Homo sapiens: one gene and its partner. The protein of the gene in region 2 binds, or shares a complex with, the protein of the main gene of each other region. Each region holds a gene or a part of one and is shown on either strand. Other genes may lie near its edges.

Region 1 (10,266 bases), on a different chromosome or scaffold from region 2:
CCCCACATCCCCCAAATCGGAACCAGGAAGTCTGCTTTCCCCAGGGCGCCCAGCACCCCTAGCTCAGCGTCTCCACACAGGGGTCAGAGAGGGCCCCAGCTACTCCAAAGCTGGCAGCTCCCACATTGCACATCCCTCTATTACCCCTACACATAGAGGGATGGCGGGTTGGCTCAGGGTTAACCCAAAACAGCAGGCAAGCCAAAATTCAATGCCCGATTCCATTACAGGATTTGGAATGAGTGCCTGTTAACTTTATAAATTAAGTTGGCTTTAGATCTGTGGTTTTCAAATATTCTTGAGAAAACTTGGTTTTCAAGAGAAATTTTACCCAAAAGTCTAATACATAAAATAGAGGAAAGATAATAGTGCCTAGCATCTCATGAGTGTGTATTACATACCAGCACCTTGCTAAGCTCTCAGGGCGCATTGTATTAGTTAATCCTCACCAATAGGCTTAGGAGGTGGAGATCTCTTTTAACCTCATTGCATGAATGAAGAAGCGCAGGCTCAGGGAATATAAATACCCAGCCGAGGTCCAGCTGCAGGCAAGCCCAAGGGCTCTCTTCACCATGATCATGCTCTGGTTGAAGTGGGTATGAGAAGCCCAGAACCATTTAACCTGGCATCCCCCTTCCACATCCCACAGCACCCCATCCGCTGCCAGAGGTGCCTCCCCAGTCCAGTACCTTTGGGATCTAAAGAGTTCAATTTGAAAACCACTGTCTTGGACTAATAACCAAATAATTATGTATTCCTCTAGCACCCAAGATGAGAAGGGAGAATGATTAGATAGGATTTTATTGCTTTTTTTGTTTGTTTTTAAAGCTGCAATCTTGGAAATGATCATCAAATCCACACCCCACTCGTTGTACTTAGGGGAAAATTCAAGCTGGGAGGAGAAGGCTAAGTACAGAGGGGAGACCCAATCCTGGCCTTGGACATCTAGCCCAGACTCCCTCGCATGCAACCTTGACAGACCAAAACCAGCGGCCAGAGACCATAAATGCCTCCTTAGACAAAGCCATCAAGCCACCAGCACATCTGGCTGTATTCATACAGCATCCCACACCTTCCAATGTCCTGGGCACATCCCAGCCCTGGGGCCCTCGCCAGGCAGGGCTCTGAGCCCAGAAAAAGGCAGGGTCTCAAGAGAGGATAAGATCGAGTGGCAGAGGAGGAGGGAACTGCAGAGAGCAGGGGACCAGGCCCCAGAGAGCAGAGGGAGAAGAGAGAAGAGACGGGAAGGAGGACCGCAGGATGTGGAGGGACCACAGGGTAACTCGGGCTCTAGGGGTGGGACAGGGCAGGCCCTTGGAGCCGGGAGGGGATTTTGGAACTGAACCAGCACCAGCAAGCCTTGCCGGGAGGGGGCACCTTGGAACCCAAAGCCAAGAGGAATGGCTGTCCATCCTCCACGAGCTTTCTGGGTGGAACTAAGGTGTACAGCGGGGCAGGGGCCCGATCCAGCCCACACATAGGCAGGACGGAGGTCACCCCTCATGACCATTTCTGTCCTCTCCTTGCACCCTCTCTTGCACACCAGCTCTCCAGCCTCGGAGAACCACAGAAATCTCCTTCTGACCTGCCCCTTTCCTTGCGCCTGCCCCCACCCCAGCACACCTGTCACTTCCACCCTCCTCCAGTCCCCCCTCTCCCATCTGCCCCCCAACAGTCACGGCGCAACGGTGGGCACCAAAGCCTAGGTCGTGGGTCTGGAGACAGCCTGGCCACAAATGTGGCCCACGTCTGCCCAGGACACCATCAGCAAGGCCCGGGTCTTGCTCCAGGCCTGAAAGCCGGTCTCTGTTGGCAGAAACGCTGCCAGAGCCAAGCCCTGCCAGGCTCCTGGAGGGGCTTACCTTCACACCATCGCTCTTCTTGTTTCCCCCACTCTTCCCTCCTGTGGAGGAGAAAAAGTAGAGGGTTAACAACGCCAGGCAGGGCACCAGGGCCCACAGGGCGAGGACGAGCAGCATCCACACGCAGCCGGAGGGCAGACTGCAGGGAGCAGAGCTGGCCCAGCGATCCTGGGGGAGGCCTCCTCCTCCTCCTCCTCCTCCTCCTCCTCCTCCTCCCTCCTTGGAGGCCCAGGGACTGCCTGGGTTCCCCGCCTTCTCAGCAATCTCAAGCGTAACCCTCTGGCTTCATGGGTTGAGGGAGGTGTCCAACATGTCCCAGGACTGTGGGCTGCTGTTTCAGCCCGGGGATTCCCTCTGAATCCCTGTCACCACCGTGCTGGCGGTGGCCAACCCGAGGTCTGGCTGCCTGGCCCCAGGCTGGACACGCCCTCCCCACCCTGGCCCTCTCTAATTTTAGCCCCATGCTGCTGCGGAGGTCATGTGTCAGCCCTGCCTACTCACTCCGGACAGCTGCAGGCTGCGTCTTGCCAGTGACAAGAAGCAGATGCCCCCACTGGGGCCCACCCTGCCAGAGCACCCATCCCCTGCCTCTCTCCTCAGGCCATATAGGCCTCCCCAACCTCAGACTCCAGAGCCCCATATTGGCACTGGCTATGGCCCGGGTGGCAGGGACAACCAGAGCAACAGCTCTTTGGGGGCTTCCCCTGCTGTCATTTCCCCTTACCTCCCTCCTCACCTCCTGGCCAGAGCCCTGGAAGTGGGCATCAGCCAGGAAATGGCCTGAATGTCCAGCCCTGCCCACAGGCATCCGGCTGCTTCAGACTTAAGCAAATACCTTAAATGAAACAAGGTATCTGTGAAGTACTTAGCAAAGCACCTGACCCATAAGCCGCACATGCTCAGGAAATGGTAGCCATGATAAGACTTCTCCTGGTGGCCTTGAGAGGGGGAGTTGGGAGGAGGGTCATATGAGCCACTGATGCCCCAGGGGCTCTGAGGCATGGGGCTCATGGCAGGTCACCTTCCCAGTCACCCCCACATTTCCACCTATGACCCCTTCGAGGCTCTCATTCCAAGTTCCCTACTTGCAAACCAAGGCAGGGGCCACCTCTGGATCCCGAAGCTGACAGGAATGGCTGTCCATTCACCACAGGCTTTGGAGGGTTGGACTAGGATGTGCAGTGGGGCAGGGGGAGTGCTTTCTCCTCGAGCCTCAAGGTAGACGCCCCTCTCAGCTCCAGCCTACTGTCACAGGATCGTGGGTCCAGTGAGGCCACAGCGTCTAATTTTCAAGAGACGACAGCAATCTGGGGTTTTCTATGAAATTTCCTAATTTTTAAGTGTTAGAAACTCATTCAAAAAAATTTTTAAAACACCCCTACCTCCACAAAGCATATCAAGAGATTCAATCCAGCTCACAGGCCGCCATTTTGTGAGCTCAGGACTAGAGTTCTTTAGGGTGCTTCAGTTGTTAAAAAAAGACTCTGACTATCTGGGTAGCTCATCTTTCAGTTTACGGAATGGCAGGATCCTTGTCCAGGGAGAGGGTGGGAAGGCAGTTTAACGAGGTAGGAAAAGCCCAGTCAGAAGTTCTAGTATCTGCCCACCTCTGGGTCTCACTCCTCCCAACTGGTTACATGGGCAGGTGGACCCACTCAATGCAGCCAGCTGCCCCCTTCTCAGAGCTGCCCTCTTGCTGTGGTGCTGGCCACAAATCTGCAGCAGCTTTCTCGGCTGGCCCCAGCCCCAGTCAGAGGGCCCCTCGGGTGAGCTTTGCTCTATCTGCTATCTATATCTCCTCTACTGCCTGCCAGCGGCCTGCGCTCCCCAGAAGGAAGCCTCTGGAGGGCACTGGCCCCAGCCCTCTCTGATGTGCCAAGAGGAGCTTCTTGCTAAACCCTGACAATAATCCCTTCCCCTTCTCTCTGCAAAGCCACATGCCTCAGGTGATTGGGCACTCCCTGCCTTAACCAGCCCAGTTTGGCCAAGGGCCTGGGACGCTCCTGCCCTGGACTCACTGGTGACCCAATCCAGTTAAAGGCACTTGCCCTGGGTTTGGTCAAACCTGTGCTGAATGCAGGCTCTGCCTCTCTAGCCATGTGACCTGGGACAAGTCAGAGCTCACCTTCCTGAGCTTCTGCTTCCTCATCCCAGAAATAGGGATGGCAGCACCCCCATCATCCCCTCTGCTGCCTTGTCATGTAGGCCACCTGAGTGGAAGCACGGGACTGCTTAGCACAGGGCTCCAATCATGGTGGGCAATATTGTTACTCCCTGGACCTGGCTCCACCCCATCTAGAACTCAATCCCCTGCAATCAGAAGCCTTCCCCTCTAGGCGGCCCAGCCTGAGAACCCCAGCACTGCTGTAGGAGTGGGCAGCCAGACTAAATCTGTAACCAGTCCTGGTGGGCCCTGGGCTTGCTGACTTTTGACCTCTCTTCACTTCTGGGTACAGGCCGTGGCAGGTGAGCTAAGCCCTTAGTCACAGAGTCCTCTACAACTCCCTCTCCCCAGGCCCAGTGGCCTGGGGGCACTCCAATATCTGACAGGACGGTGCCCCCAACGAACTGGTGCAGGGCTTACTGGGGACCCTGAGGTCCTGCCACCTACCGGAGAAGTTCCTGGTGGCCAGCATCGTGGTGAGAATGGCTCCCTGCAAGACATAAGAAGAGGGCAGTGGGAGAGGAGGCCGGAGTGAAGGGACCCAGGAGGGACAGAGAGACGGGAGGGCCACGGGGAAGGAGAGGCAGGTGCTGCATTCAGAGAAGAAGCCAAAGCCTCTGCCCTGCCCCTCCATTTGTCCCAACCCCAACCCCAGCCCAGAGCCCATCCCTCGCCCCCTGGAGAAGTCGGGGTGAGCTAGGCTTTAGCCAGTACAGCTCCTGGGACAAGGCCGTCCTAGGGGCAGATATTAATGGGCCCCTTGGCCCGCCCAAGCTGAAGAGCTTGAGGGACACCTACCAGCAGAGGCTCCTGAAGATGATGGACTTTTCTTGCTTGGGCAACAACAGCAGACCTCGTGTCCCCCAACCCCTCCACCTCTTAGCCCTCTGCCCCGTGCTGAGAGCATCTTGCTCCAGGACTAGCTCATCCCTCCATGGCCCCTGGGCTCAGAGAATCCCAGGAGGATTTTCTCTTTTTTTTTTTTATTTCCAAGTTTTTTATTTTATATATATATATATATTATATAATACTTTAAGTTCTAGGGTACATGTGCACAACGTGCAGGTTTGTTACATATGTATACATGTGCCACGTTGGTGTGCTGCACCCATTAACTCGTCATTTACATTAGGTATATCTCCTAATGCTATCCCTCCCCCCTCCCCCCACCCCACAACAGGCCCCGGTGTGTGATGTTCCCCTTCCTGTGTCCAAGTGTTCTCATTGTTCAATTCCCATCCATGAGTGAGAACATGCGCTGTTTGTTTTTTTGTCCTTGCGATAGTTTGCTGAGAATGATGGTTTCCAGCTTCATCCATGTCCCTACAAAGGACAGGAACTCATCATTTTTTATGGCTGCATAGTATTCCACGGTGTATATGTGCCACATTTTCTTAATCCAGTCGATCATTGTTGGACATTTGGGTTGGTTCCAAGTCTTTGCTATTGTGAGTAGTGCCGCAATAAATATATGTGTGCATGTGTCTTTATAGCACCATGATTTATAATCTTTTGAATCCCAGGAGGATTCTCAATGTAGAGAAAGCCTCCTCCATCAACAAGCAGGCTGGGGGCTAATGGCCCCTTTTGTTCCAGAGCCATCTGATTCAGACCTGACTTGACACTGTCTGAATCCCACTGCTTATGATGTTAAGAATCCCTGATTCTGATATTTTGAGACTTCCTCTGTGACACAGCTTCCACTGCAGGATGGGGATGGGACTCAGTTCTCCTGGCATCATGCTGGCCACCACCCCTTGGTCTGTGTCCCCATCCTAAGCCTCCACTCCAGGCCTGGGAGCAGCAGATAAGGAGGTTCCACAAGAGCTGGGGCCTCCGCCTCTTCCCTCATCATCCCCAGCGTGCTGACGGCTCCTCTGTTCCACTGGCCAGGGGCCCCTCAGTGCCTGGCAAAGGCCAGGCCAGGAGCTGTCACCACCCTGAGAGCACACAGAACCTGCAAGAGTGTGAAGCTCTGGGACCACCTGGGTGCCACTGAGCTTCCTCAGGGCCACAATCACTGTCTGAGTGCCTCAGCCATTCCTCCACAGTACTGGGCAGCTGGGGCGCCTCCCTGACCAGGGTCTCACGTTCAGTCATGTCTCACCCCCAAAAGCTCTCCCCAGCCACTCTGAACCACTTGTGGTGCCCCTAAGGGGTCAGGCGCACTTCCAAACTTCTGCACAGGCTGCTTCCTCTGTCTGGAACACGTTCCCATTCTTTTTTTTGTTTTTTTTTTTTTGAGACAGAGTCTCTCTCTGTTACTCAGGCTGGAGTGCAATGGCACGATCTCACTCACTGCAACCTCCGCCTCCCAGGTTCAAGCAATTTTCCTGCCTCAGCCTCCTGAGTAGCTGGGATTACAGGTATGTGCCACCATGCCTGGCTAATTTTTGTATTTTTGGTAGAGACAGGGTTTCACCTCATTGGCCAGGCTGGTCTTGAACTTCTGACCTCAGGTGATCTGCCCACCTCAGCCTCCCAAAGTGTTGGGATTACAGGCATGAGTCACTGCGCCCGGCCACACTTTCCCATTCTGACTCTAACTTGGCTAATACCTGCTTATCCTCCAAGGTCTCAGCTTAAACGCCCCTGGCTCCAGACCCAGAATACCATTGTCCTGCTGCATTCTGCCACCATCTTGAGGCTTTCCCAGGCATGGCACTCACCACTGCCCCATAACGCCCCAGGAACTTGTCTGTCCTCTCCACTAGAGCAAGGGCTCAGTCATTCACCGCTCACTCCCCAAGCCCAACCTGCTGTCCAGTATGCAGTAGGTGTTCAATAAATGCTTATTGAATCAATGAAGGAAAGAATTAGTGAGCGAGTCTCCTGGCCTCTGTGGAGACCCAGGCAGAGCTAGTCCCATGGCCAGGACTGTGGAGGGTGAGGACCTGTTACCTTCAGTTTCCTCCTGGCATTGAACTTCTTCAGGCAGTCCACGGTCTCCTGTCTGTGCATGCAGGATGCCACGGTGGAGCGGTGCTGGAGGAAGTAGGGGAGAGGGCTGTGAGTGGAAGGCAGGCTGGAAGACAGGCCCACCCAAGGGTACCCTTCAGCAGGGCATCTTAATGGAGGTGTGGTTGACATCTTGGGAAGAACGATTCATTGCTCTAGGAGATGCTTCAGGGTGTTTAGCATCCTGGCACCAGACATTCAATGCCAGTAGCACCATCAGTTGTATGCCAACCCAGAACACTCACTCCTCGTTTCCACATTACCCCTGAGAACCACAGCAGGGGCAGTCTCTTGGATTAAGCCCTCTTGGCCCCATGGGCCAGGGGAAGGGCCAGAACTCTGTGGGGGCCTGGATCATGAGGTCTGGAGGGGCTCCTGGGAGAAGTCCTGCTGAGGAAGGCTCACCGAGATCCAGGGGTGCTTAAGGGCTTCGGCAGCTGTGATGCGTTTGGATGGGTTAATGGTCAGCATCTTATTGATCAGATCCTTGGCTTCCGGGGTGACAGTGTCCCATTCCGGCGATGGGAACTGGAAGGGGCAGAGAGGCCAGGTTTGCCCAGCCTGCCCCAGGCCACCCCTGCGATCCCCCAGCCCCTGACTGGCAGGGGAGCAGGCAGGGGTCCTACTGCCCATCCACTCGGACATCCACACCAGGAGGAGTTGGGGCTCCTCACTGCAGGGGAGGGCCCTAGCCCCATACAAATCAGAACACGGCAGAGGGAAAGGAGGCCTCCCTCCAACCATCTTTCTGAGACTGTGCCTTATTTGCAGAGCAGCCGGTCAGTGGCTTTAGCCCAGACTTCAGAATCAAAAGGCCTGGATTCAAGTCCTGGCTCTGCCTCCTGGGCTGTGTAACCTGGGTAAGTCACATGACCTCTTGAGCTATCTCTAGAGATGTTGTGAGAATTAAATACAATATAAAACATACGGCACAGAGCTTAATAGCTATCTGCATAAAAGCAATATAGCTTGGTAGTTAGAAGCATGGATGGTAGAGCCAGACTGCCTGGTTCAAATCCCACCTCTACCATTTCTTAGCTGTGTGATCTAGGCAGTTACTTGACCTCTCTGTATGTCAGCTTCTCTATATGTAAAATGGGAATAATAACAGCACCTATATCATAGATTGGTGTGAGGATTAAATGTAATAATATGTGTAAAACATTCAGAGAGTGCTATAGAATTGTTAGCTATTATTATTTGTATATATGAGAGAGAAACAGAGAAACCCTGGCTTGGGAGGCGCCTCTCCCCTACTCCTCACTCCATTTTGGTGCTGCTTCTTGCCTTCTGGGGCAAGATAAATCTCCAATCATTAGGCACAGCATGGTAACCACCTGGCCCTGGTCAGTCTTCATGCTCCCCTGGGGTTCACCCCTGTGCCAGAACTAGAGAGTGGCTTGGCGCTGGCTTTCACTGGAAGGGCACCAGAGGATGATGGGAGCTGAAGAGAGGAGCGACACTCACATCATAGGCGCCGGCTTTGATCTGCTGGTACAGGCGGTGCTGGTCCTCATCCCAGAACGGGGGGTACCCAACCAGCAGGATGTACAGGATGACCCCTGGAAAGAGGACCAGAGAACCTTCAACCCCCTGTGGGGAGGAGACATGGGGGGAGGGGAGTGATGGGAAAGGAGAGAGGGGGCCCCAGAGGCCGGGGTGCAGCCAGGGGCACAAAAGGGCCTTAGGATGAACTCACCACAAGCCCACAGGTCCACAGGCTTCCCGTACGGGTCCTTCCGCAGCACTTCTGGGGAGAGATATCCAGGAGTCCCTGCAAACCCTGCTCCCAGACACACAGACAGGCAGACACATACACAGAGGTTGTCTCGTAAGTAACCTGGAGCAAGATCCTGCTGGAAGAGGGGATGAGGATTGCTCTGGAGCTGAGGAAAACAGCCCCTGCCCCTCAGGTGCACTTGGGCTTGTATTGTGCAACCCCAGTCGGCCCAAGACATAAGCCTGATGAGCCAGCAAAGCCTCTAGATCAGATCGACAACTACCTAGCACACCTGTCACCACTTCCCACTTCAGAGCCAGTGGTAATCAGCCACAGAACTCCTTCCTACTGGGTCCTGACTCAGGATCATAAGCTTCTCAGCACCACTCTTCCAGGAGCCACTAGTGATCCATTGCTGGTGGCTTCAAGATGAAATGCACCTGCCATGTCAGCCCCAGGCTGAGAGCTAAGCCCACTCTGCACCCCCTTGTTGGAGTTGGTCATGGGATGTCGGGAGGCCTGTCCTAACTGACTTTGCCCCTTGGGTACGTCTCTTTATCTTCTAGTCCTTGTTTCCTCATCTGTCAAATGAAGGATTAGGGATTCCTATCTTAAGTGCCTCCCAGGGTTGTTGAGCCGGTCAGTTCAAATAATGGACACCTGAGGTATTCTAACAAGCACTTTTAAGAACACTTACAAGTTACCGAGTGTGTATGCTAAGCATTGGGCTGAGCACTTCATATGCCTGGTCACATTTAATTCTGACACCACTCCTGAGGGACACACAATTATTATTCCCATTTTACAGATGAGGAACGAAGGCACAGAGAGGTGAAGTGACTTAGCCAAAGTCACATACCTCATAAGTAGCAGAGTCGGGATTTGAACCCAGAACTCTGGTTCTTAACCATGGCTCAATATTGCCCACTAAAAAGTACTCCCAGGTAGCTTAAAGAGACCCAGTTATACCAAAATCACAAAGCAGGCTGGATCATCTGAGTTAAGTCCTGGTCTATCCCTTTTAAACTTTCTTGACCTTCTGCAAGTTTTCTGCCAGTTTTTTCCTCATCTATAAAATCAGGATAATAATCTCAAGCACCTAGACTATTAGGGCAGCTCTGTGGAAACTTCCCTAAGGCCTTCAACCACAGGGAGCCCTTTGGGGAGGAGAGATGGCGGAGGGGAGTGACAGGAAAGGAGAGAGGGGGCCCCAGGGAGCCCTGTGGAAGGCCGTAGGGTCCCATGCCTGAACCCTGGGGACACAGATAGGTGCTGCCCACTGGCTCAGAGGCTGGGTGGGACAGGGCCTCTGCTCTACCAGCCCCGGCTGGCCCAACAGCATCTCCAGCCATACCCACTCAGGCAGGGGGTTCCCAGAGGCTTATGTGTCAACACAAATGGGTGCTGACCCCCAACACTTCTGCCAGCCCACCCCACTTACCAAACCATGCCTGCTGCTCCCCCTCCACCTCTATGGCCAGGCCAAAGTCTGCCAGCTTCACTGCGGCACCCTTGAGCTTGGAGGCCAGCAACAGATTCTCAGGCTTGTCAGGACCAGAGAA
Region 2 (10,266 bases):
GTGCGGTGGCCGAGGGAGGCGGCGAAGATGTGGTAGGTTGCAGAGCATTTGGAAATGGGGTGCTAACTGGGCGGGTGCATGGGAGCACCGAGTAGCTTGAGCTGGCAAGAGACCTTAAAGGGTTACATACTGCGAAAAGGAAAGGTAAATGTTGGGCGCTGGTGCTGGGACCATTGGTTCCGCTGAAATTAGGTTTAGCTCCTCGTTATTATCTTGGGTATCTCCAGTCAGCTTTTTTCCCAGAGGTGTCTGAGGGATGAAGCGCGTGTTTGATCGTGACACACACACACACACACTCACACACACTTGTGGCAGGACGCACTTGTCTCTTTATCTTGGAAGGTGTTGTATCAATGTCTCGATGTCTGTTTGAAAAAATACAATTAGAAGATTTTTATGTGATTGGGATTGAAGGGAAAGGGTGGGGTTTGGGGGGATGGAGGGGACGAAGGAACATGAAAGACTGGAGGACGGAAAGAAGTGGGGGAGCGTGTTCCCTGGGAGTCAGGGAGAACCTTGCCTCCCTCCCTGTCAGCTAGACAACTCCTGCCCACACATCTCCTTTGTGTGGCACGAGAAGCTGGTGAACCTGCCTATTCCCAATCCAGCGCTGGGTCCCCTTGAGGATCTTGCGTCCTCCTCTCCGAGTTATTAAGGATGCAGGACGTGTTTCGGATTCGACGTGGAAAGAGGGAGGGAAGCACATTAGCATTAAGGTAATCATGGCACCCTGGCTCGTGGACTATTAGATTGGCTACCAGTGGTCTCTAATCTTACTGTTTGCAGAGTCAAGAATGGGGGCGGGGGTTGGGGGACTGTATAGATTGCCTTTTAAAATAGTGTGACTTCATAATAACGGAGATGGCTGAAAGATTGCTTCCTTACACTACTTCTCGGCCATCAGGGCTGAATAAAGGACCCGCCTCCGCCCTCTACTCCGGCTCTTCTCTGGCTGTCTCTTCCCCATCAAGTCATAAAGCGAGCGGGTTGGGCGAGAGGGCACAGCTCGAGGCAGAGAAGAGACGGGGTCACTTTCACAACTCCCAGGAATCGGCTTCAGAAAGGAACCATCTGCGACTCCCACGTTCCTTTCGAAGTTCTCCTTCAAAAGGAATTACAAAAAAAAAAAAAAAAAAAAAAGCGATGGGGGTGGGGATCGGTAAGACACAGGGGTCCTCCCCCTGCTCTTTTCAATTACTTTCCCAATACTCTTTCAACACATCGAATTTACCTGCAGTGGTAACTGGGTCAGCAGGTAAATAGATTTGTATCTGTATATGTCGAAATGTGGCTCTCCTGGTGGATGAAAAGCAATTTTTTGTGAGCATATTCTAACCTAGGCGAAATTTCTAAGCACAATAGAGATTTTTATAGCGTGGGCGAGAAGAGTGCATTCCAGCGAAAGCAGGACACGTGATCCCTCCAACGGGTGAGATACAGTATTAGGAACTCGATTTTCTTTGTTCCAGCCTGAGCCTATGAGATGTTCAGCATCCTGGTTGCTTAAGTCCTCCTATAGAAGGAAAATAATAATAATAATAATAATAAAGTTGATCGGAGGCGAAATAGAGGGAAAATAAGCACAGGTAGACATGCGTGAACGGTTTGAAAGCTTCGCCTCTGCCTTTTTTTACCGCCCACCCTTCACCCCCACCCCTTGCTCCAGCCAGCCCCCTATTTTAAAATGAGGCATTTCCTCTGGGAGACGGTGGAAAAGTTCTCCAGCCCCTGCACACGTGGGTTCTCCAGCACTTCAGAACCTGCTGTGATTCGCAACAGATTACACCACCTTCCCAGTCCAAGTGTCACGCCTCCGTCCAGGCTTCCTTGAATTGGCTTCCAGGAAGGACTCTAAGGGAACTACCACGAGGTGTTTTTTGTTTGTTTGTTGTTTTTTGTTTGTTTGTTTTTACAAAAGACAGTAAAGCAATGAAGTCTTTACTTTTTAGAAATCATTGATTGCACAGGGGGAAAAATGAGCAAATAGGGATGTAGGAATGATTTTATGTTTCCTTAAGAGTCATATGGCTAAAGTATATTGGGGGTGTGTTTAGTGATTGAGTTTGGACTTCTGAGGTGTCTCAGGCCTGTGGAAAATGTCCTGAGGTCAGAATATTTATTAATTTAGTGGAGATATAACTTGTTTATGACCCAACATTTAGAGTTACCTGACTTGGAGATTTCTTATTTCATTTTCACTTAATGTTTTATAATCCATCTTAGTAGGCTAAAGTTTTTAAAAGGTGGTTTATTTATGTGTTATGCTGCATTGCATCATACTAATATGTAATGATAAGAAAAACAGTCAATTTTCATGACTTATTATGAGGTGAGAGTTCTTTATACATTTTTAAGAAAAAACTGACTATCCAAGAAAAAATGTGTACTTACCATGGCCAACACATAAATTCTACATCACTTGTGTCTGCACATATGCAGCTTAGAATTAGAAACAACTTCATAAAGAAACCTGGTCCAGTTGCAGTAGCCATGTTTTATTCAGAATTTTAGTGCAGCTTTAGGCTGTCATTAACATTTTCCCAATTAAATTCTTATTCCACTTTCTTTTTTAAGCTTTTAATTTTTCTAATTCCCTTATAAAATACAGAACATAAGCTTAAAGTGTTTTTGTGCATCTGCATTTTTGTTTTCTTTGGATTTCAAAAAATCACGAAGATATAAATTAATATGAATGTTATTGCTTATGAAAGTAATAAACTATATTATCTATATGATGTTCATTCCAGTGGTACTTGTAGATCTCTCTTATTTCAGCATATAGTACATGATTAAATATTTGATACAAAAACTTGGTCTTGTTAATCACAACTTTAAAACATTCACTTTTTAGAACAGATAAAATATTGATGTTAGGTTTTAATTGATGTATCAAAATTACACTTAGAGATACTAAAATTTTATTTGCTGAATGACTGTGGCCCCAATATAAGAAGGAATCACACATTCCACGAGATTATAACTTCATTGCTTACTCAGATTAACCGACTACACGAAGAGTAACCAATTATTGATGAATTATCATCTGAATTATTTATGGATTCTTATTACATTTTCTTTCTTCACACAAATTATTTCATAGTTTTTTGAAAAAATTATTTCAAACATATATGCTGTTGAACACAGTAGTTATAATAGCCACACTACCACTGAAAGACATTATTTGGTGTATTTTGTTGTCTCTAATAACAGTGACTACTTTGCAGAGTATCATCCACATTCTTTTTTGGAGCCATGTAAATTTGCAAGATGACTTTAGGGGAATGTTAATTCAAATCTGTGACATATAACAGACTTTTAGTTTATGACAAGCCGAGTTACCATTAACTAATTTTTATTGCCACGGAAAGATATCATTGGAGATGACTCTAGGCTCTTTGGAGAATGTTGAAGTTTTCACTCTGAATTTCTTTAATTTAGCAGTCAACATCAGTCTTCAATAGAGAGTTTTCAATGTTTCAATATTAAGAAATAAAATTTTAATATAAAGATAGCAATTTAAACCTATAATGAAGCAAATTATATTATATTCTGATGGAACAAAAAAGCAAATTATATAAGCTATTGTAATTAAATCAAATACCTAAATCAAAAGAAGGAGATTCATAGACAGGCTTCACATATGTTTTAAAAAACTTATTTGTGAATTGTCAATAAAAACTCAGAATGAAAAGTGGCACTATAAATCAACAATGTTTGAATGATGGTTGCCACAAATCAATAGTATTTTTTCTTTATGTGGCTTTTAACCATGTTATTTATGTGACTCAGGTTTGAATCATTAGAAATAATTACATTTTTATAGAAACAACTGTAGAGTATTACCCTGAGATAGTGAAAGAGGAGTAAGAAAAACTTAGGTATGTCTAGAAGTAATATGCAATCTTAGGTAATACATCTCTTTTAACAAGATAAAATAGAGGTGGCAATAATTACTATTTTATAACTGCAGGACATACCAAAGAAGACAAAGGGGTACATGAAATGTGGTTTGGAAATTTTAGAAGAGTGAAGTATAAACTTTTTTGTATAGATTAGTTTTTCTGTAGTAATGTGTGTGTGGGGTATGTGTGTGTGTGGTTCTGTTTAGTGATAGCATAGTATAATTATGTATATTATATAATGGTGTAATTAAAAGCATGCCATTTAAATAATCAAATATGTCTATTTCCTATCTCAAAAAAAGTGAATATGCTCAGAAATCCATGAACATCACTTGTCATACTGCCTCCCCTACCATAGTACCTGAACTGTAATCATAATTATAATAAGTTACTGCTTGCTAAACTCCTACCATGAGTCATGTGCTTTACTTCAAAATAATCCTACAGGAAGCATGATTCTCACTGTTTTGAAGATTAGAAAACTGAAACTCAGAGACAGCAAGTGGCAAATCCATGCCACGTGGAAAGTGATGGGCCAAGATTTAAGCCCAGATTTGGCCCCTGTTCATTTTTCCCCATTCTGTGCTCTCTTCTTCATGGCATAAATTGAAGTTCGGTAAATAACTTAAATCTGTAGATTATGGAAGTTTTTCCTGGTGTACAAAGAAAGATTAAGATTTTGAACCAGCTTTTGAAAGCTGTATATTTGGTGATAATACACCCTATTATTTTTGGACTATTATTTAATGTAGGTATAGAAAATACTGTTGCTTATTATCTTGGAATAATTCATTCACGACAGAAATTTAATAATCTAGTAGAATCTGTCATATAAAAGTACATTATGGAAGTTTTCAATAAAGCAAATTTTGAGTCAATAGCTGTCATGTCTATTTTGAAACTATGATGATGCACTTGATAATTAAGCCCCTGGGGAGGCATCATATATGCTAATTAAATTATTATTCATAATAGAAACATTATCATTTGTCATTCAAAGACATGGGAAAAATATTAAATACATTAATAACCCAAAGGATTTCCTGTGTACACTCATTCTCATTTTATTGTTCATTGCTTAATAAACTACTTAAAATCTCTATACAAAATATTATTTTACTTCAATACACGTGAAAGAAATAGTAGTTGTCAGGGATGAAGCATTGAAATGTCTATTAACATTGACATGATGTGTTTAAATATTTTAACAATGGAGCAGTTGTTTACATTGTTTAAATAATTCATTTATAGGCTTCTTAAAGATGCAGTTTCTTCAGTTGTGCCAGGATATTTTTGCTGTACACGAAGTTCAGTAAGGTTGAAAGCATACTTAACACAAGGGGATAGGTATGCCCAAGGTAGTATCATAACAAATGGCTTAAGTTAAAAACAGTGGAACTCTAGGATACTTGTGTGTGTGGCGGGGTGGGTCAGATGAGGGAGATATTTAAATGTTGTAGTACTCAAGAGGTAAAGTAGTATGAGAACAAGTGAGAAGCTATTGATTTCAATTATAGAAAAGAGGTAGCTGACCTTAAAACAAAACAATAGCATAAATACTATCATTATCATCATGAAATTTTCATAGGTAAAAAGAAATGGTATTGTGAAAAGCAGAAAAACAGAGCTAACAGAGGAAAATATGGGACAAACAATTGGAAAAGAGCTGCTAGACAAGTCACTGAGAAACTACAGGATTTTATGTTATTATATTGAAAAAGATAAGAATACTCTGGTGTAGTGGCAAAATACTTTATAGATGCTTGGCTGTATTGTCAATTTATTCAATACTGGAAGGAAAGGTAAGAAATGAACTTTATTAAGATAGTGCCTAAGTATTATGAAGACATTTGTTGCACTAAAAAGGTAGGTAATGGACACAAAGCTAAAATATGCCAGCTGAACTTAAAGAATTAATATGTCACAGATGGCGTAACTAAAACAATTAAAAATTGCAAATAATAGACTTATAAATACTAACTACTTAAGTGTTCTGCATCAAAAGTATTCATCATTGCAGTTCTTACCACCAGTAGGCACCTTACAGAATCATGTTGGATGGAAATATACCTTGGACCACATATTTTGAGCACTCATAAAATTAAATAGTTACTATCCGGTGTTCTTCTGATCAGTGTAATTCAAGACATGAAAAAAATTTCTTCCCTATATCAAGTGTGATTAATTTATTAAGACAATTATAAAAGCTATTGTAATTAAATCAAATACCTAGTTAAACTTAGAGTGAGTGTTAAATATTAGCGAAGTCCTTAGGCTAATATCGTATTGTTGAACACTGGGCACACCACACACATACACATACAGCTGTAATTGTTCTATTTCACAACACATATGCACACACAAACATAGCTGTAATCTTACTATTTCAGGAGTTTATAACACTTCAGAGCTGGAAAGGAATTTAGAGGGTCTCATTTTATAAAAAGAAGAAACTGAGGCCCCACTAAGTATACTTTCTTGCTGAGGGTCATCCAACTGTTAATGGGAGAAATAGCAATAAAATCAGGTCTTGTAGCTCCCACTGTCTGCCAGTAAAACCACACCCTTGGAACTACTGGGGTCTCTTACACCCGAGCAAAGTAGAAGAGAGAAAGGAATCTTAATTCAATAGATCCAATTAATATAGCTAGCCAATTTGATGACACTATCCAAAAAGCATTTCTTTTTCATTGAATTTTTGGCCTGAATTTCAATCTGAGTTTAATTTTTGGTCTTAATTATGCCCTGAGTTTTTATTTGGCTTAAGCATTTTGGACAATTGCCTTATCCTCCACTTTGACTTGACTGTCTAGGCAGACTCCTATGCTATAAATTTAACATCTGTTAAGTATTCTATTTTTAAAATATCTTTATTTAAGAAATGTGGAATTAATTTTCACTAATATTGAAGCACTCTAAATTTGGATACTATATCCTTTCTTAAAACATTAAAATTAAAATGTTCTTTTTAAATCATTGATCTTTTTAGGATAATGCCAGCTAAATGAATGTTGGATGATGAAGAAATGTTCAATTCATTTTAAATAAATAAATTATCTTCTAAATTTGCTAATTTTATTAGGGGTCAACCAATAAGTTTTCTCACCAAAAAACAAGGAGGACTTTAAGTGCTGTTAGGGCTTTCTATAAACTATTACTTCAAATATGAATTAGGAAACCATTCTAATCAGGAAAATAAAATACAATACAGTTGGAATTTGTAAAACAGACTCATTTCTGAGAAGTTTTTTGCATTATTAAGTTACATTTTGGGCTGGGTGACTGTAATCCAGCACTTTGGGAGGTTGAGGTGGGGTGATTGTTTGAGTTCAGGAGTGTGAGACCAACTTGGGCAATATAGTGAGATGTTGTATCTACTTTTTTTTTTTTAAGTAGCCAAGAGTGGTGGTGCTCACCTGTAGTCCCACCTACTCAGGAGGCTGAGGTGGGAAGATTGCTTTAGCTTAGGAGGCAGAGGTTGCAGTGAGTTGAGATCACACTACTGTACTCCAGGCTGGGTGACAGAGTGACACTCTGAAAAAAAAAAAAGTTACTTTGGAAGGTCCTTTAAATAGTAAGATCCTTCCTTCTTCTAAATATCTGGTTAAACATCTGTTATGACTTAGTTCTTCTGTTACAAGACAAATTTGAAATAAACGTTTCATTTATATTTTTTCTAATGCTAAAATTCTTAGTCCACCATATCTAGAAGCTTTGATTGCAGGTAAATTTAAGGCAAGATGTTTTATAACCCACCAGCAAACCATATTAGCAATGATTATAAAGCATTTTTGAAATTATGAGATTAAAGCTCTTAAAATATGTATTTGGGTTGTAAACAATGAAATGTAGAAATATTTACAAAGAATATCTGATTAAACAAGATATCTACATACATACACAGTCCCATCTAATAACCCTTTTTAAAAGACATAACTCCTTATTAAGGAAATAATGTTTTAAATTGAAGAAACACCATGATGACTAAATTAATGCATCACATATCAGCACATTAGCTATGCTTTTCATTTGTAAAATGGTTCTTATTCATGCCAGCTTTCAGTGTACTGTTCAGAGGCTCGTGGGTGTGATGGAACAGAACATATTTCTGCATCTGTGAATGTAATCCCACACACCATTTTACATGACAAAATCTGAATGTCCTAAGTCTAGGTGTTAACAGTAATACGAGATGTCAACCTCTCCCAGTCCAGGGTTTGAATTATTCCAAAATAATACCTGTTTTATCTTTTGCACTATCTAATTTTATTTAATGAGCGGTTATTTACACACGTAATATAAGGAGGATGGACGTTTTTTGTTTGTTTACTCGCTTTTTCTGCCTCGTCTCGTCATATCTAAGATTTGCTTCCTGCAGACAAAAAGCAAGCCACTGAAACTCAAACACAGTAGACATCAATGTGGGACGTGAACACAGGGGACTGGATACAAAGATGATGTGCTTTTGTACTTTGGTACAAGAAGAAACTACTAGAACTGTTATGCATGTTTAAGTTCCATATAAAAATCATAGGTAAACTTACCCATAATTTATATAAAGGAATATGTTGTTAATCTCCTTCCCCCTCTTCCCTAGTAGAATTTCTTTGTATAATCATGTGTGAAAAATAGATAGAAATGCATGAAAATCTGATGGTAGTTTCTTTTGCTGTGCAGAAGCTCTTTAGTTTAATTAGATCCCATTTGTCAATTTTGGCTTTTGTTGCCATTGCTTTTGGTGTTTTAGACAGCAAGTCCTTGCCCATGCCTATGTCCTGAATGGTATTGCCTAGGTTTTCTTCTAGGGTTTTTATGGTTGTAGGTCTAACGTTTAAGTCTTTAATCCATCTGGAATTAATTTTTGTATAAGGTGTAAGGAAGGGATCCAGTTTCAGCTTTCTACATATGGCTAGCCAGTTTTCCCAGCACCATTTATTAAATAGGGAATCCTTTCCCCATTGCTTGTTTTTCTCAGGTTTGTCAAAGATCAGATAGTTGTAGATATGCAGTGTTATTTCTGAGGGCTCTGTTCTGTTCCATTGATCTATATCTCTGTTTTGGTACCAATGCCATGCTGTTTTGGTTACTGTAGCCTTGTAGTATAGTTTGAAGTCAGGTAGCGTGATGCCTCCAGCTTTCTTCTTTTGGCTTAGGATTGCCTTGGCGATGCGGGCTCTTTTTTGGTTCCATATGAACTTTAAAGTAGTTTTTTCCAATTCTTTGAAGAAAGTCATTGGTAGCTTGATGGGGATAGCATTGAATCTATAAATTACCTTGGGCATTATGGCCATTTTCATGATATTGATTCTTCCTACCCTACAAAATGGGAGAAAATTTTCACAACCTACTCATCTGACAAAGGGCTAATATCCAGAATCTACAATGAACTCAAACAAATTCACAAGAAAAAAGCAAACAACCCCATCAAAAAGGGGGCGAAGGACATGAACAGACACTTCTCAAAAGAAGACCTTTATGCAGCCAAAAAACACGTGAAAAAATGCTCACCATCACTGGCCATCAGAGAAATGCAAATCAAAACCACAATGAGATACCATCTCACACCAGTTAGAATGGCAATCATTAAAAAGTCAGGAATCAACAGGTGCTGGAGAGGATGTGGAGAAATAGGAACACTTTTACACTGTTGGTGGGACTGTAAACTAGTTCAACCCTTGTGGAAGTCAGTGTGGCGATTCCTCAGGGATCTAGAACTAGAAATACCATTTGACCCAGCCATCCCATTACTGGGTATATACCCAAAGGACTATAAATCATGCTGCTATAAAGACACATGCACACGTATGTTTATTGCGGCACTATTCACAATAGCAAAGACTTGGAACCAACCCAAATGTCCAACAATGATAGACTGGATTAAGAAAATGTGGCACATATACACCATGGAATACTATGCGGCCATAAAAAATAATGAGTTCATGTCCTTTGTAGGGACATGGATGAAATTGGAAATCATCATTCTCAGTAAACTATCACAAGAACAAAAAACCAAACACCACATATTCTCAGTCATAGGTGTGAATTGAACAATGAGAACACATGGACACAGGAAGGGGAACATCACACTCTGGGGACTGTTGTGGGGTGGGGGGAGGGGGGAGGGATAGCATTAGGAGATATACCTAATGCTAAATGACGAGTTAATGGGTGCAGCACACCAGCATGGCACATGTATACATATGTAACCTGCACATTGTGCACATGTACCCTAAAACTTAAAGTATAATAATAATAAAATAAAATAAAATAAAAAGAAATGCATGGAAAAAAAAGTTGTATTTTAGTCCTGGTAATATGGATGAATACTTCCTTGTTTTAAATGCCACTTAATGGTTTTAATATT

The links.
Region 1: the proteins of LRRC7 (region 2) and CAMK2A are in contact, whole or in part, in a crystal structure (PDB 6X5G), measured with the Homo sapiens proteins. Residues at the interface, in NP_001357714.1 of Homo sapiens: His843, Gly844, Arg845, Arg846, Pro847, Leu848, Ile849, Arg850, Gln851, Asp852, Arg853, Ile854, Val855; in NP_001350919.1 of Homo sapiens: Glu96, Phe98, Glu99, Ile101, Val102, Lys137, Glu139, Leu159, Phe173, Ala174, Gly175, Thr176, Pro177, Gly178, Tyr179, Leu180, Ile205, Gly209, Tyr210, Pro211, Pro212, Phe213, Trp214, Tyr222, Gln224, Pro233, Glu236.

Annotation. Positions count from the first base shown.
Region 1 is NC_000005.10:150,243,299-150,253,564, forward strand, and holds part of CAMK2A (calcium/calmodulin-dependent protein kinase type II subunit alpha), read right to left. Parts: intron 10,249-10,266; coding exon 10,146-10,248; intron 8,768-10,145; coding exon 8,684-8,767; intron 8,547-8,683; coding exon 8,452-8,546; intron 7,513-8,451; coding exon 7,390-7,512; intron 7,012-7,389; coding exon 6,928-7,011; intron 4,517-6,927; coding exon 4,474-4,516; intron 1,904-4,473; coding exon 1,863-1,903; intron 1-1,862. UniProt on the Homo sapiens protein: Calcium/calmodulin-dependent protein kinase that functions autonomously after Ca(2+)/calmodulin-binding and autophosphorylation, and is involved in various processes, such as synaptic plasticity, neurotransmitter release and long-term potentiation.
Region 2 is NC_000001.11:69,568,789-69,579,054, forward strand, and holds part of LRRC7 (leucine-rich repeat-containing protein 7), read left to right. Parts: exon of another isoform or gene 1-27; coding exon of another isoform or gene 28-32; intron 33-552; exon of another isoform or gene 553-657; coding exon of another isoform or gene 658-716; intron 717-10,266.